Homo sapiens: one gene and its partner. The protein of the gene in region 2 purifies or fractionates together with the protein of the main gene of each other region. This does not show direct contact. Each region holds a gene or a part of one and is shown on either strand. Other genes may lie near its edges.

What was found.
Region 1: the proteins of HACD3 (region 2) and PARP16 purify together in Homo sapiens (affinity purification with mass spectrometry; one large-scale study listed by BioGRID and IntAct). This does not show direct contact.

The regions. Positions count from the first base shown.
Region 1 is NC_000015.10:65,284,084-65,288,072, reverse strand, and holds the start of PARP16 (protein mono-ADP-ribosyltransferase PARP16), read left to right. Parts: upstream 1-1,189; 5' UTR 1,190-1,646; coding exon 1,647-1,820; intron 1,821-2,481; exon of another isoform or gene 2,482-2,612; intron 2,613-3,989. UniProt on the Homo sapiens protein: Intracellular mono-ADP-ribosyltransferase that plays a role in different processes, such as protein translation and unfolded protein response (UPR), through the mono-ADP-ribosylation of proteins involved in those processes.
Region 2 is NC_000015.10:65,529,116-65,533,262, forward strand, and holds the start of HACD3 (very-long-chain (3R)-3-hydroxyacyl-CoA dehydratase 3), read left to right. Parts: upstream 1-1,347; 5' UTR 1,348-1,516; coding exon 1,517-1,603; intron 1,604-1,678; exon of another isoform or gene 1,679-1,718; intron 1,719-4,147. UniProt on the Homo sapiens protein: Catalyzes the third of the four reactions of the long-chain fatty acids elongation cycle. This endoplasmic reticulum-bound enzymatic process, allows the addition of two carbons to the chain of long- and very long-chain fatty acids/VLCFAs per cycle.

The DNA of each region.
Region 1 (3,989 bases), 250 kb from region 2:
CCTGACCCACTCCAAGCTCTCCCTTCCTGGGGTCTGAGCTTCAGAAGCCACCTTAGAGTTCCTGGGTCCTATGAGAACCCCCATGGCTTTTGAAGCACTAGGGGCCTTGTGGTTCTAGGCCTCAGAGCAAACAGATTTGATGTGGGCTCCTGGGAGCAGCCCCCAACCTTTACCTGGCAAAAGAAGATGGGAAGCTCTGTGGTGTCTGGGGGACCAGTCTTCGCCCTACCTCCCGAAGTCATAGATGCAATCCAATGGCATGGGACCACCTCTCCTCTGAGTCCAGGGCCCAGCACAGCCTGGATGCAGAAGGAGAAGTTTCTTCCTCAGAAGATCCTGCAGGGTAGGAGTGTGTGCGGTGTGTTGGTTTAAGCACAATGGTCTGTGTTTAGATTTGCATGTGACCATGAGGTCACACTTTGGGGTTTTCTCTAATGAAGGTTCTGAGTAGGGAGAGGGGATGGGAGTCTAGTCCTTACCCTCCAGCAGAGTTAAGTCAATGCCCCTCTGCTCTCCCCCAAGCTCCCTGTCAGAGAGGTCTCCCAAGGAGGATCTTGGGGCATTTGAGGCCAGAGACTTAAGCAATTCAGAGAATTCTGGAGGCTGAAAAGCAGAGGAAAAGTCTTTTGGTTTTCCAAAGATCTCGGTGTGAATCCTAGATTTACCCATCTGGCTGTGGGATCTTGGGCAAGCATTGCAGCACTCTAAGCCTCAGTTTCCCTGGGTGTTAAATGGCTCCTTCTGTGCAGTTTTGGAGGGAAAAGATTCAAGAGAGACAATAGGTAGCATTAATACCCCAAGGAAGAGAGGTAGGCTCAGTCCGCAGAGCTGGGACAAAGACAAGTACAGGGGCGGGTCGAGAGGGTGCCCACATCAATTTCTACCAGGGCTGCTGCTGCTGTGAGGATGGCTGGCAGGGGCGTGGGCGACGTCGCCCGGCACACACTGGCGGCGGCAACTCTCGTAGCTGCGGGTGATCGGGGTCTGGGAGGGGCGGGCACAACCCGTACGGTGGAGCTGGCTGGGGCGCGAAGGGGCGGGCCCTCGGCTGGGCCGGGCGGAGCGCGGCGGCGGGAGGGGAGGTAGGCCGGGCAAGGCAAGCGGACGTGAGCTGCAGGCGGAAGACAGGTGGCGCCGCGGGCAGCTTGGCGAGAGGCGGGACTTCGGCGGCGCGGCGGGAGGCGGGGCAGGAAGGCGCGCGCGGCGCAGCAGCCTCGCCCGTCGCGGAGAGTGGGCTCTGCCCGCCGTCCCCCGGGGGCTGCTTCCCGCCCCAGGCCTCCGCGGAGGACACGTGTCAGCACGTTCCCGCGGTTGTCATTCCATTGTCATAGCCCTTCCCCTAGGCCGGGAACCCCTCCCCCCCACCAGCCCCAGTTCCTTTATCCCTGGGCCCAACCTCCCCGCCGACCCGCGGTCCAGGCCTCGGTCTCTCTCTTCGGCGGCGAGCCGCGGCCCAGACCCCGGCAGAGGACACTTGTCGGCACGTTCTCACCCCTGTCATCTCAGCCCCCTGCCTAGCTCCACCCCAGGCTTGGGAACCCGGCCCCTGACGGCCCATTGTCCGCGGGCCCAGCCCCCGCGCTGAACGCACGCTCGCCCTTGCCCCTAACCAGCGCGTCTACCCCGGCAACGCGCAGTGACCTGGGATGCAGCCCTCAGGCTGGGCGGCCGCCAGGGAGGCGGCGGGCCGCGACATGCTGGCCGCCGACCTCCGGTGCAGCCTCTTCGCCTCGGCCCTGCAGAGCTACAAGCGCGACTCGGTGCTGCGGCCCTTCCCCGCGTCCTACGCCCGCGGCGACTGTAAGGACTTTGAAGCCCTGGTGAGTGTGCTTTGTCCTGGCGCTGCCCACTGCGTCCTGGACCAAGTGCCCTGTGGAACCACAGGTAGAGGCAGTTCCATCCGCATTAGTAAACATGACAGCCGCCAGACTTTCCATTCCCAGCTTGGTCTTGCCTTGCCTTGGGGAAGGTTTCCATGAGCTAAGAACACTGCTAACACCCTCATGTCAACGCTCACTCCCAAGGCACTTGGTGGCTGCTTCTCTCCTGTCAATGACAAATGACTCCGAGGACTGAAGTGAGGAATAGTTGCATAGTCCTCCACAGATTTTCTAGCCTGGCCAGGAATAGGGTTGATGTGAATCAGCTGTTTTGCTTAGCTAGAAAGTTATCCATCCTTTTGCAAATAATTAGACACCAAAAAGTCACCAAAGCCGCCCAGACATTGGTCTTCAGATGAGGTGATCTATGGGCAGTACTTTTATAAACTGTAACATCCAGTACATATGTAAGCTGTTATTTCTCTGATTCACCAGGCACTTTTTTTGCAGAGTTCACCTCTGGGTCAGCATTCAAGATATCAGTTATCCTTATAATCCAAATGTTTGGAATTGCCTAGAAAAATATAACTTACCAAAATCGATTCAATAAAAAGCAGAAAATTGAAATCGCCAATAGCTGATATTCATTAAAGACACTGAACTCCATGTATCTTTGGGACCTGTCAAGTGTGGCAGTCTCCCTTCCTTGCCATGGAAGAGCATATTCTTGTTTACCAGCAAAGCTGTCACCATTTAATTGGTATCAGATTCTGACTTGCACAAGTAACATTCTTCACTGTTAAAAACTTGGAGGGGCCAGGCTCGGTGGCTCATGCTTGTAATCCCAGCACTTTGGGAGGCCAAGGCGGGCAGATTACCTGAGGTTGGGAGTTCAAGACCAACCTGACCAACATGGAGAAATCCCGTCTCTATTAAAAATACAAAAAGTTAGCCGGGCGTGGTGGCGCATGCCTGTAATCCCAGCTACTCTGGAAGCTGAGACAGGAGAATCGCTTGAACCCGGGAGGCGGACGTTGTGGTGAGCCGAGATTGCGCCATTGCAGTCCAGCCTGGGCAACAAGAATGAAACTCCATTAAAAAAAAAAAAAAAACCTGGAGGGTGCCAGGTTATTGGGCGAACTTTTCTAGACTATTGTAGAAAAAGAAGAAAAAGGCTGAGTGGCTCATGCCTGTAATCCCAAGGACTTTGGGAAGGCAAGGCAAGAGGATCGTTTGAGACCAGCCTAGGCAAAAAAGATTTCTTTAAATTAGCTGAGTGTGGTGATGCACGCCTGTAGTCCCAGCTACTTGGGAGGCTGAGGCGGGAGGATGGCTTGAGTCCAAGAGGTCGAGGCTGCAATGAGCTGTAATCACACCACTGCCCTCCAGCCTGGGCAACACAGCAAGTCTCTCTCTCAAAAAAAAAAAAAAAAAAAAAAAAGACGTTGGATTAGTAGTCAAGGATTTTCCCTCAAAGAAAACTCTGGACGTAGCTGGTGTCATTGGTGAGTTGTAGCAATCACTGAGGGAATAAGTAATTCCCAGTTTTACACAGAGTATTAAAAAAGAGGCTAGCATAACCTTGACCCTAAATCTGATAAGGGTGATACAAAAAAAGAAAATTATAGGCCGAGTGCGGTGGCTCACACCTGTAATCCCAGCACTTTGGGAGGCTGAGGCGGGTGGATCACGAGGTCAGGAGTTCAAGACCAGCCTGGACAATATGGTAAAACCCTGTCTCACCATTATGGTGGTGCATGCTGGTAATCCCAGCTACTCAGGAGGCTGAGGCAGGAGAATTGCTTGAACTGGGACCTGGGAGGCAGAGGTAGCAGTGAGCCGAGATCGCCCCACTGCACTCCAGCCTGGGCAACAGAGCAAGACTGTCTCAAAAAAAAAAAAAAAAAAAAAAAAAGAGGAAAGAAAATTATAGGCCAATGTCATGAGTATGAATGCAAAAATTATCTTCAAGGTATTAGGATCTTAAAGCTAGCAATGTATAAAAAAGGGTAATTCCTTATGACCAGGTTGGGTTCATCCCAGGAATGCAAAATTAGTTCAATATTAGGCAATCAGTTAATGGCACGAACCACATTGATAGATTAAAGGAGGTATTTAGAATCAACACGTGTTTAGCGTTATCTCTGATGAAATCATCAGTGTTTGGTT
Region 2 (4,147 bases):
CTTTGTGAGCTCAGCACATTCATTATATGAAAACTCTCTATATTTTATTCTGTCCACTCTTGAGCTAAATGTTTCCAGAGAGCTAGCAGAATTTGTTTTCAGCGTTAGATCCCTCTGCTAAACAAACGGGTGCTAATAGAATCACTTTGCTAAATAAATGGGAGCTAACAGGATTGAATATGAGTTCCATTTTTGTCCCAGAGTTCTAGTTTTCATATAAATATTTCTTCCCATTAAATTCTTCTCTGCAGAAGAACTTGGGGATGAAACCCGATACAGACAAGACAGCTTAAGTAAGACATAAATGAGTGTTGTCTCTAGTTTGAGTTTCCTATTTTTTTGAGACAGTCTCCTGCACTGTCCAATAGAATAGCCACCAAAAATATGGATATTTAAGTTTAAATTAGAAGTGAATAAAGTTGGCCGGGCGCGGTGTCTCACGCCTATAATCTCAGCACTTTGGGAGGCCAAGGCGGGCGGATCACCTGAGGTCGGGAGTTCGAGACCAGCCTGACCAACATGGAGAAACCTCGTCTCTACTAAAAATACAAAATTAGCCGGTGGCGCATGCCTGTAATCCCAGCTACTCGGGAGGCTGAGGCAGGAGAATCACTTGAACCCGGGAGACAGAGGTTGCGGTGAGCCGAGATCGCGCCATTGCACTCCAGCCTGGGCAACAAGAGAGAAACTCCGTCTCAAAACAAAACAACAACAACAACAAAAAAAAAACAGAAGTGAGTAAAATTGAAAATTCGGTTATTCAGTTCAAGTACTCAAAAGCCTCATGTGGCTAGTGGCTACCGTATTAAAGAGCGCAATGTGCAATATTTCCATCATCACCTACAGTTTTATTGGGCAGCGCTGCCCTGGTCTTTATTTTCCCTTGTTGGAACGCTCTTCCACGCTGCTCCCACACCATGTCCCCTATCACCATTATTATCCTCATTTCATCTGTAATTACTTGCATCTTTTAATAGGCTGGGAGTTCTAAGACAGAAGGGACTGTGTCTCACTTCTGTTGTTCCAGTGTTTAGCTTTGAAACCCAGGCACACAGTAGGTACTCAGTAAACAGAATGCGAAGGACCGTCCAGAGACACCAGTCCCAAACCCTTTTCCAGGCTGATCGGTCCCCCATAAGTCTCCAGCCTTTTTTATTTTAAAGCTTATTTTAAAGCATGTCCCTGAAGACGAGTGGGGAGAGCAGACCACCCGCTGATTCCAATTCCCTAGGCGGCCGCGGCGAGCTGCGGCGTCTCTGTGCCCCGGCCTGCCCCTATCCCGCCTGCGCCCCGCCCCCGCCCGGCTCGCGCCAAGGCCCGCTGCTGGCGCCGCCGCCATCCCGGCGCGTCACTGCGCAGGCGCGGCCCGCGAGCGTGGGGTATCTCGAGGTGCCGGGTTGCAGGCGCTCAGGAGCGCTAGGGTTTGAGGCCTGCTTTCTGCTCGCGCCAGCAGAGCACTACCTGAGGCAGCGAGGCGCAGCGAGCCTAGCCTCCCCGCGCCCTGGGCAGTGTGGCCATGGAGAATCAGGTGTTGACGCCGCATGTCTACTGGGCTCAGCGACACCGCGAGCTATATCTGCGCGTGGAGCTGAGTGACGTACAGGTAAAGGCCGGGTCGGGCGGCGGGAAGCGCGCGGGATCGCGGCTCCGGGTACCCGCCAGGACCCCTGCCCCCTTTGTCCGCGTGCGCGCCGGAGAGCCTGCAGTGCGCCAACAAGGTCGGCGACGCGGTGCGCTTACGGCGTGCTGGCGCTTTTCGAGGCTCATCTGCAGATCTCGGGCCGGGGGCACAACCCCCCGAGGGCTGCAGGAACCTTCGGGTCCCCAGAGAGCTCGGCCTGGGCCTCTCAGGCTACCCCGGGCCTCTTCTTTGTTCGCAGTCGGCGGCCTTCATGGAGCCCAGGCCCGGCCCTGGCTGCCTGGCCGTCGGGGTTCGAGTTGGCTGGGGCCCTTCGAGATGTGGGATGAGCTTGTTGGGTCAGGGGTGCGGTTGTGACAGCGGCTTGCTGGGCCGTAGCTGAATGCCTGCCGCTGGCCTGAGAGGTCCAGCCAGGCCCCTCGGACGTTACTGAGGCTGGGCGCTGCCGGAGGTGGGGGAGGGGGAGGGGTGGGGGGCCACACCCACCTCGCAACCGTTCAGTGATGGAAATCATTCTCATTACTTTTAATTTTAAAATTCACAAGAGCTGGAGGAAGTGATTTCCCCCTCTGTTCTGAAGGTTGTGAGCTCAGGTTTGCTGAGTTGCACAGAGAACTTAAAAAGTTCTTAAGTTACATTAAGCATTTCTGTTTGAGCTCCTTGGCCCTTAATGTAAGCAAGCTGAAGGCACGTAGTAGTGGAGACTCCAGGACCTGTGTATCCTCATGTCTCTGTCCAAACTAAAGATTCTGGGCTTTGAGAAACTGGAATTTTCATTCTGGAAGGTTCTTTCTTTCTTTCTTTCTTTTTTTTTCTTTTCTTTTTTTTGAGACGGTGTTTCGCTCTTGTCGCCCAGGCTGGAGTGCAATGGCGCGATCTCGGCTCACCGCAACCTCTGCCTCCCGGGTTCAAGGGATTCTCCTGCCTCAGCCTCCCGAGTAGCTGGGATTATAGACGCGTGCCACCATGCCCGGCTAATTTTTGTATTTTTAGTAGCGACAGGGTTTCACCATGTTGGCCAGGCTGGTCTCGAACTTCTGACCTCAGGTGATCCACCCGTCTCGGCCTCCCAAAGTGCTGGGATTACAGGCATGAGCCACCGCGCCCAGCCTCTGGAAGGTTCTTTCTACAGTCATTCTTATTGGAAACTTCTCCTTAACATCTATGGCACTTTGTCATCTCTTTCACTCCATTTAACTCTCTCTGCCTCTGAACAGGCATCTGCTTGGATCACCCGTGGATCCGGTAAAATGTAGGTGCTTTCTGAGTGTCGACTTGAATTTATTGAATTTAATATAATCTTTGCTTCTGGAATATAAACAGTTTTCCTGTTGAAAGATGAAGACAGTAGTGGCCAGAATGCCTTTAAATAGGCTATGACATTGCATGGTGTGTCGTTTAATGTGTTCATCCAGACTGAGGCTATACTTTTGGGTCAGAGTATGAGTAAATGTTCTGTGCTGTCTCCCTCTACTGCTCCACGGTGGTTTAATAGAATAGGAAAAAACAAACAAAATCTTTTGTAGATGGGGATCAAAGTCCCCGTCTAGAGAGGGTTCTTCCAGCAGTCAATAAAAAAGTACGGAACAGGCCAGGTGCTGTGGCTCACGCCTGTAATGCCAACACTTTGGGAGGCCGAGGCGGGAGGATCACCTGAGGTCAGGAGTTCGACACCAGCCTGACCAACATGGAGAAACCCCATCTCTACTAAAAATACAAAATTAGCCGGGCATGGTGGTGCATGCGTGTAATTCACTATGTTGGCTACTCGGGAGGCTGAGGCAGGAGAATTGCTTGAACCCGGGAGGCGGAGGTTGCGGTGAGCTGAGATGGTGCCATTGCACTCCAGCCTGGGCAACAAGAGTGAAACTCTGTCTCAAAAAAAAAAAAAAAAAAGTAACCATCTAAAAATTTTTGGGGAAAAATAAATCATTTTTCCCCCTTATTGAGTTTTTGTTTTCTCTGGGGTTTCACATCTGTAGTTTTGAGGCACCCATATTTCAACTACCATTAGTTTAAAAGCATGATGTTACCCTCATAAAAGAGTGTTTACATGTGTTAGCAATCCTCTAACACATGTAAGGTAGTACAGATTTACAAAGGTGAGTCAGACCCAGCTTTTCAAGGGCATGCTATCTAGAAGGAGGCGTATCATATACAAACAAAAAGTTTTGTGTAGGAGTATGTTTATTGGTAGAATTGGAGTTGGATGTTGAACCAGGTATCTGGTGTTAAAGGAATTTGTTACCTTTCTTTCATTTAGTTAGTGATGACTTCCAGAAATGAGAATTATTTTTGTCAAACTAAGACTGGGAGAATGTTCCAGAAAGAGAAAGGCATAGACTTTTAGACACTTGTAATCTCTGACTTAAGCCGTGTCAATGCCCAAAGGCCACCAATAACACACCCGTAGTTAAACAAGTTGGGTTTATTACTCATTGCATTGAGAGAGCATACTCCATGGGGAACCCTGGGGTGTTTCATTAGGAGGGTGTTAGAACTGATTAT